Linked DNA regions of Homo sapiens. The protein of the gene in region 2 interacts with the protein of the main gene of each other region in a biochemical or structural test. Each region holds a gene or a part of one and is shown on either strand. Other genes may lie near its edges.

Region 1 (3,752 bases), about 160 Mb from region 2:
TGTTGCCCAGGCTAGAGTGTAATGGCACGATCTTGGCTCACTGAAACCTCTGCCTCCCGGGTTCAAGCAATTCTCCTACCTCAGCCTCCTGAGTAGCTGGGATTATAGGCATGTGCCACCATGCCCGGCTAATTTTGTATTTTTAGTAGAGACAGGGTTTCACCATGTTGGTCAGGCTAGTCTCGAACTCCTGACCTCAGGTGATCTGCCGACCTCGGCCTTCCAAAGCACTGGGATTACAGGTGTGAGCCCTCCCTGTACATGGCCATGAGGTTCATTGACTTTCAAGACCTTCAGCTGACCTCTGGTTTATAGACCCTAAAGGTAAAAGACAGAAAGGTACAGGAATGCTTGGAACAAAAGATCTGTTTCAAGGCCAGATCTAGGGAAAAGGGGGCATTCTGGAGGCTGGAATATAAGTCTAGGTATGCTTTTTTGCAGGAGTGGCAAGAACTAGGTGTGAAGGTTTGGGTAGAGAAGCTTAGTGAGGCTGAGTGGACAAAGGTAAGGCCTGAGAAGGCAGCCTTTCTGTATTCCACCTGCAACTCAAATTGTTACCACCACTTTCTTGATCATGTATTAATAGTTGTTATGTAGAAAAAAATTCCTTATAATCATAGAAATCACTTGTTTATACATACACATAATATGACATATTTTACTACATAACTATTACTACAAAGTTATATATAACTTTTTCTTCTCTGGGCTTATATAAATTTTCATATATATACATATATAAATTTTATGTATATATAATAGTTTTTGAAAAGTAGAAAAAAAATACAATTAGCCAAGTGTGGTGGCTCACACCTGTAACCTTAGCACTTTGGGAGGCCGAGGTGGACAGATCACTTGAGGTCAGGAGTTTAAGACCAGCCTGGCCACTGTGGTGAAAACTTGTCTCTACTAAAAATACAAAAATTAGCCGGGTGTGGTGGCGGGCACCTGTAATCCAGTTACTCCAGAGGCTGAGGCAGGAGAATCGCTTGAACCTGGGAGGCAGACGTTGCAGTGAGCCAAGATCACGCTACTGCACTCCAGCCTGGGTGACAGAGCGAGACTCCATCTCAAAAAAATATATATATTACATATAATACATATAAATATATATAATTATATATATAAATTTATTATATATATAATAAAATACATATATAATTTACTAGAAGATAAATTAGAGTTGGTTATTACTGTCACAAGAGAAGGACTGCTTTGTTTGTTATTTAGCCCCTGCTTTGGACTGGTCTCCTGTTGAACAGAGCCTGGAAGAGGGCTTGTGTGCAGTTGGTTTATATGGACCATGATCCTAGAGAAGAGAAGTTGAGACAGGGGAAAGTGAGACAGGGAAGGCAGGAAAGCCACAAAATGGGGGCCTTCTCCAGCTAGTCACCACAGTGGGCAATGGAGGCTCAATCCCATCAAGCCCTTCAGAGGGGCTGTGTAGACTGCAACAGAAGAGGGGAGGTTTACGCATGGATCTGATACCCTCTTGGCCAAGGGCTATCCCATGGAGTATATTGCGCTTCCCTGATACTCAGATGTGGGGACGAGGTTTGTTCTTGCAGACTGATTTTTTTTTTTTTTTTAAGATGGAGTCTTTCTCTGTCCCCCAGGCTGGAGTGCGGTGGCACGATCTTGGCTCACTGCAACCTCCGCCTCCTGGGTTCAAGCAATTCTCCTGCCTCAGCCTCCCGAGTAGCTGGGATTACAGGTGCACACTACCACGCCCAGCTAACTTTTGTATTTTTTTTTTTTTCCAGTACAGACAGGGTTTCACCATGTTGGCCAGGCTGGTCTTGAACTCCTGACCTCAAGTATCCACCCATCTTGACCTCCCAAAGTGCTGGGATTACAGGCATGAGCCACGGCGCCTGGCCTGTTCTTGTAGACTTTCTATGCAGAAAGTCAGAGAAGCTGGGCCACGGTGGCTGAGGCGAGGTCCCCGCAGGTGATAACTGCAAGAGGCAGGTTGCCTCAGCAATGACTGCAAAAAAGTGGGCAGGATGTGAGGGGAGGGTGAGGGGAGAAACCTGAGGTGTTCAACACAAGTGCTGCAGATTCCCTTTCCTCACCTAGAATAGGATGGGGATGAGAATCCCTCATGGGAGTCATCATGCAAATTAGCAGTCACACAGGGAAGCACCCAGTGCAGCGCTGAGCAGTGGCCACCCAGTGAATAAAATATAACTAGAAAGGCTTATTTTACTTGAGTTCCACTATTGTTTTTGTTTTTTGTTTTGTTTTGTTTTTTGAAGATGGAGTCTCGCTCTATCACCAGGCTGGAGTGCAGTGGCGTGGTCTTGGCTCACTGCAACCTCCACCTCCTGGATTCAAGCAATTCTCCTGCCTCAGCCTCCCAAGTAGCTGGGATTACAGGCACACGCCACCATGCCCGGCTAATTTTTGTATTTTTAGTGGAGATGGGGTTTCACCATGTTGGCCAGGCTGGTCTTGAACTCCCGACCTCGTGATCCACCCGCCTCAGCCTCCCAAAGTGCTGGGATTACAGGCATGAGCCACTGCACCTGGCCAGGGTTCCACTATTGTTTTAAAGCATCATTCAATAATCAATATGTCAACATGTGCATAACATTTTAATAACATGCGTTGATTCTAGAGACAGTACAAGTTAGAGCAGTACTCAGGACAATAGTCTATTAGCTAGTCTTCACTTTCCTAAGATGTTTCTGACAACCTGTAGATAATTAGGCATAGCTTGTTTTACTTCATTCCTTTCATTTATGTAATATGGACTGAACTTTCCAGTGATAGAAAATATCTATGAAAATTATTACAATGCCTATGTCTACAGGCAAACGAGTTAATAAATTCAGTTTCCGGGTTGAGGTCTCTAAAATGCCAAGTCTATAAAGAAGCGACGGCAGAGAACACAGAACATTTCCAGAATTTTGTAATAGACATGAACCTTTAAACCACAGAAGGACTGAATTTAACATTTTAAAAAACCTAGAAAAAAAACAGCTGGGCGTGGTGGCTCACGCCTGTAATCCCAGCACTTTGGGAGGCTGAGGCAGGCGGATCACGAGGTCAGGAGTTCGTGACCAGCCTGGCCAATATGGTAAAACCCTGTCTCTACTAAAAATACAAAAATTAGCCAGGCGTGGTGGCAGGCACCTGTAGTCCCAGCTACTCAGGAGGCTGAGGCAGAAGAATCACTTGAACCCAGGAGGCAGAGGTTGCAATGAGCTGAGATCATGCCACTGTACTCCAGCCTGGGTGACAGAGCGAGACCCTGTCTCAAAAAAAAAAAAACAAAAAAAAAAACCTTAAAAAATAAAAGCCCCAAAAATGCTAACTATCTGACACAGTACAGCCCTTAATATTTTCACAGTCTCTTTTTGGTTTTCCTCCACATTCACAATGAAATGTTAGTGATTTTAAAACATTCCAGAGAAATTTTAGTGTTGACACATCTTTATTGAGGGCCATTTCATTTATAGTTACTTATGTAATCATCCAAACAATTCAGCTCAGCATACTGGGGCTCAGAGAGGTGGAGTCATTTACCCAAAGTCACACAGCTGGGACATGGCAGAGCTGAACTAGGAGCTATGACTTCCGGCTTAGGTCCAGGCCCCTTTACGAGATTGTTTCCCTGCCTTTGGGTTTTGCATCCTCTATTCTGGGCTTCCACCCGCATGCCAGATGGCTCTATTCCTGGAGTCTGACCATTGCCAGATGCTCCTGGCTGACATGACCTAGAAGAAGCCAGCAGGCTCATAACTTAA
Region 2 (3,752 bases):
CGCCCAGGTGATTTTTTTTTTTTTTTGAGACGGAGTCGCGCTCTTTCGCCCAGGCTAGAGTGCAGTGACACGATCTCGACTCACTGCAGGCTCCGCCTCCAGAGTAGCTGGGACTACAGGCGCCCACCACCACACCCGGCTAATTTTTTGTATTTTTAGTAGAGATGGGGTTTAGTAGAGTAGGATGGTCTCGATCTCCTGACCTCGTGAGCCACCCACCTCGGCCTCCCAAAGTGCTAGGATTACAGGCGTGAGCCACCGCGCCTGGTCGATTTTTGTATTTTCAGTAGAGACGGGGTTTCACCACGTTGGTCAGGCTGGTCTCTAACTCCCGACCTCAGGTGATCCTGAGGAGGCCCACCTCGGCATCCCAAAGTGCTCGGATTACAGGCGTGAGCCACCGCGCCCGGACCATTCACAGCTTTTTTAGCTGCCTGGATGGAACCCCGAATTAGGGACACGGTAAATGAATGGAGCAGTCAGGGCCCGGGTGGGCCTGAAAGGCAAGTGAAGCAATGGACCCTACCGCCCAGAGAAGCGCACAGAGCAGGGGAACATTGAACAGGAAGCTTTCTTAAAATACATCCTTCTTGGCCTAGCGCGGTGGCTCACGCCTGTAATCCCAGCACTTTGGGAGGCCGAGGCGGGCGGATCACCTGAGGTCGGGAGCTCAAGACCAGCCTGGCCAACATGGTGAAACACCGCCTCTACTAAAACAACAACAACAACAAAAAAAAAACAAAATTAGCCGGGCGTGGTGGCGCATGCCTGTAATCCCAGCTACTCGGGAGGCTGAGGTAGGAGAATCGCTTGAACCCAGGAGGCCGAGGTTGCGGTGAACCGAGATCCGAGATCGCGCAATTGCACTCCAGCCTGGGCAACAATAGCAAAACTCAAAAAAAAAAAAAAACCAAATCAGATCAGGCCCGATTTTTGGTGGCCAGCCGGGGAGCCGCTCTTGCCCAACTTGGGCGAGGTCGCCTGGAGGACTTGCCAATGATCTAACGGCTCTGCTGTAGGTTCCTCAAGAGGTGCCTTCTCGGAGTTAAATGAGTCACCGCTTACTAGGCAGAAGCGCGGGCCGCGAGCGCGGGCGAGAGGCGGGGGCTACCGGTGGGGGAGGGGGCCGCAGCCTCGTGGCCATCTCCACTATCGCCGCCCTCCTCCATTTTAGGAAGGGCCTGGCCTGAGTGGCCACCGCCGCTAAGTCTGCGTCTATCCCAAAAACCTTACACTTGGCTACGATGGAAAAGCAACTTCCACTCCCAACTCCCGCTGTGCTAAGCAGCTCGCGTGTGCAGCTCCCGACCTTCCCTGACAGTGACTCGGCCCCGCAGTCGGTAATCACGTGTTGATCTGCACTTTCCCCTCCAAAGAAATCGGGGGCCCAGCACGTGCGCCTGGCATTGCGCCCCCGCCCCGGGCCTCGGGGTGAGCGGGGGCGCCAGTTCCCACCCAGGGAGGCGGCTTGCACGTGCCCCCGACCCCGCCACGCTGGGCCTGCGGGCGCGCCGCCTCCCTCGGAGGGAAAAGAGCCCCACAAGCCCAGAAAAGCCCTGCGCCGCCTGCCCGTTGCTCAGCCCTTCCCCAATCATTACCTAGCCACTGGGTCTCGTCGCCTAGGAGAGGAAGCGGAGGGTGCTGCAGACACCGAGGTGAACGTAAAGCCGGCGAGATCTCCGTGCTCCGGGTACCCACAGATACTGTCCGCGCCGCCCGCGCCGACTTCCTGCCTAGCTAAGGCGAGCCCCACCCACTTCCCGCCTCCGGGGCACGCCCCCTCAGCTCCGCCTCGCCATTCGTCGGGAGAGCCGTCACTCATTCCCTCACCTCCCGGAAAGGGGTGGGACTGCGACGGCTGCAGTAGCGTGGAAAGGGGGGTGACGTCCCGCGGACTTGAGGCGGGCAGATCTGGGGGGCCCCGACTCCCCAGCGGCCCTGTAGTGGTGCGGGCGAAACTCTGGCCCCAGATAGGACCGGTGAGCCGAACTGGGGTGTGCGGAGCCGGGGCTCCGGGGGATGGCCCGGGGCGGCGTGGCGGGCATGAGAGCTCGGGGCTCCGTCACGTACTCCGAGTCCCGCACGCACTCAGCGTCGCTCTGGGGCCCCACGTCCGGCCCTCGACCTTGCTGACAACTTTGGCGGCCCGGGCCTGCCGCGGCCCTCCTGCCCCGCCCCTCCTGCCTCGCGCCGCGATCCGAGAGACCCCGTTGGCGTCGAGTCGTTGAGAGGCTGCGCGCCTCGGCCCCACTCCGGGGTTGGGGCGCTGGCCCCGCCGCAGCGCTGCGTGTCCGGGGCCACGTGCGCCGCCTGCGCCTGCGCGCTGCCCTCCAGCCGCGCCCGTCTGGCCGGGCTCCGCCTGGCACCCGCCAAGGTGACCCTGTCCCTTTCTCCTTGCTGCGGTGAGAATCAGGCCGAGACAGCCAAAGGAAGGTTCACTTTCCTTTAATTCTACCTCATACTTTTTGAGTGCCTTCTAGGTGTCCGGCGCGCCCCCACGTGCTTCCCCAGTGTTAATTCATTCTCTCTCTAGTCCATGTCATGTTGCCTCTCAAATTTTACATCCCTCTCATTCCCATCTAGGGAACTAGATCAAACCTACCTGGATTCTTGTGAACCATTCATGTGAATTATTTGGAACTGGAATTTCACACAGACCCGGGGAATTTCTCAAAGTTCAAGACGGGTCATATTCCGTGGAATACGGAAGGAGTTGGAGTGATTTCACTTTTCTGATCAAGAACTGATAGCCATTAAAACTCAGCTCCGCAATATATCCCCCCACTCCAAGGGAGGGCTGAGATGATCACTTCGTTTTCTGTTACGGCTACTTTTATATTTTTCAACATTACTGCTGGTCTGTAAGAGAACTAAAACATCTGATTTTCCTCATTTCCTTGTAAAGAGGTGTTCAAATATGTACTTGAATTTAATTATTTCTTCTGGTCAGCTGCAAAACCTGCTTTTCTTCCTTAACCCCTAGCATTTTTATCCTCTTAGCTACAGACAGGTTTCCATGGCGTTGGTTAAAAATTAAGGCCTATTGAGACCATAGTATTTGCTTTCCAGTGAGTAAGAAGCAAGAACTTTAGGATTAAATTCAGCAAAAAGAAAAAAAAAAAGAGTAAAATTTTGCAAGCAGAGTTTGTGATTTCACCAGCAACACACTAACGTTTTTGGCTACTGAAAACCACTATCCCCAGCCCCATGACTCAGCAGCTAAATCAACAGCCAACATCTCCTACTGGTAAGGACTCTAAGAAATCAGGCACTTGGTACTCTCAGAGCAATTCTAAGGCGTGGCCCTGAAAGGGCTCCAAACAATCTTATTTTACATAAAAATGGTTAGAGAGATAAAGATACTCTGCTGTGGCCAGAACCAGTAAATCTAGCAGGAAATCAGAGGCCGAACATGATCCCGGACTGCTGCCGTTGCAAGATTCTTGGAGGCTGCAGCGCCACATTCTGAGCCAGCACTTCGACCTCACATTGTAGCTAAAATGTTAATGATTACTAGAGATGTCCTGAAATCTTTTTCAAAATTCACAGGCTGCCAAATGCCCTCCCTGTTTCCATAGCTCCTTAGGCTTTGTTAGCAGGCTGTGGGGTTCACATTTGCTTGTAGTCAGCACAACGGCATTGCATTTAGTTATTATTTCTCACTTGCTGTAAGCTTGTTGAGAAGTTTTATTGGTGGTGGGCAGGTGGGGAATAACTGTCCAAAGCTATCAGAATACCACACCTTGAAGCAC

What was found.
Region 1: the proteins of ENO1 (region 2) and MYOC interact in far-western blotting, tested with the Homo sapiens proteins (one study listed by BioGRID).

The regions. Positions count from the first base shown.
Region 1 is NC_000001.11:171,646,026-171,649,777, reverse strand, and holds part of MYOC (myocilin precursor), read left to right. Parts: intron 1-3,752. UniProt on the Homo sapiens protein: Secreted glycoprotein regulating the activation of different signaling pathways in adjacent cells to control different processes including cell adhesion, cell-matrix adhesion, cytoskeleton organization and cell migration.
Region 2 is NC_000001.11:8,876,982-8,880,733, forward strand, and holds the start of ENO1 (alpha-enolase), read right to left. Parts: upstream 1,706-3,752; 5' UTR 1,599-1,705; intron 1-1,598. UniProt on the Homo sapiens protein: Glycolytic enzyme the catalyzes the conversion of 2-phosphoglycerate to phosphoenolpyruvate. In addition to glycolysis, involved in various processes such as growth control, hypoxia tolerance and allergic responses.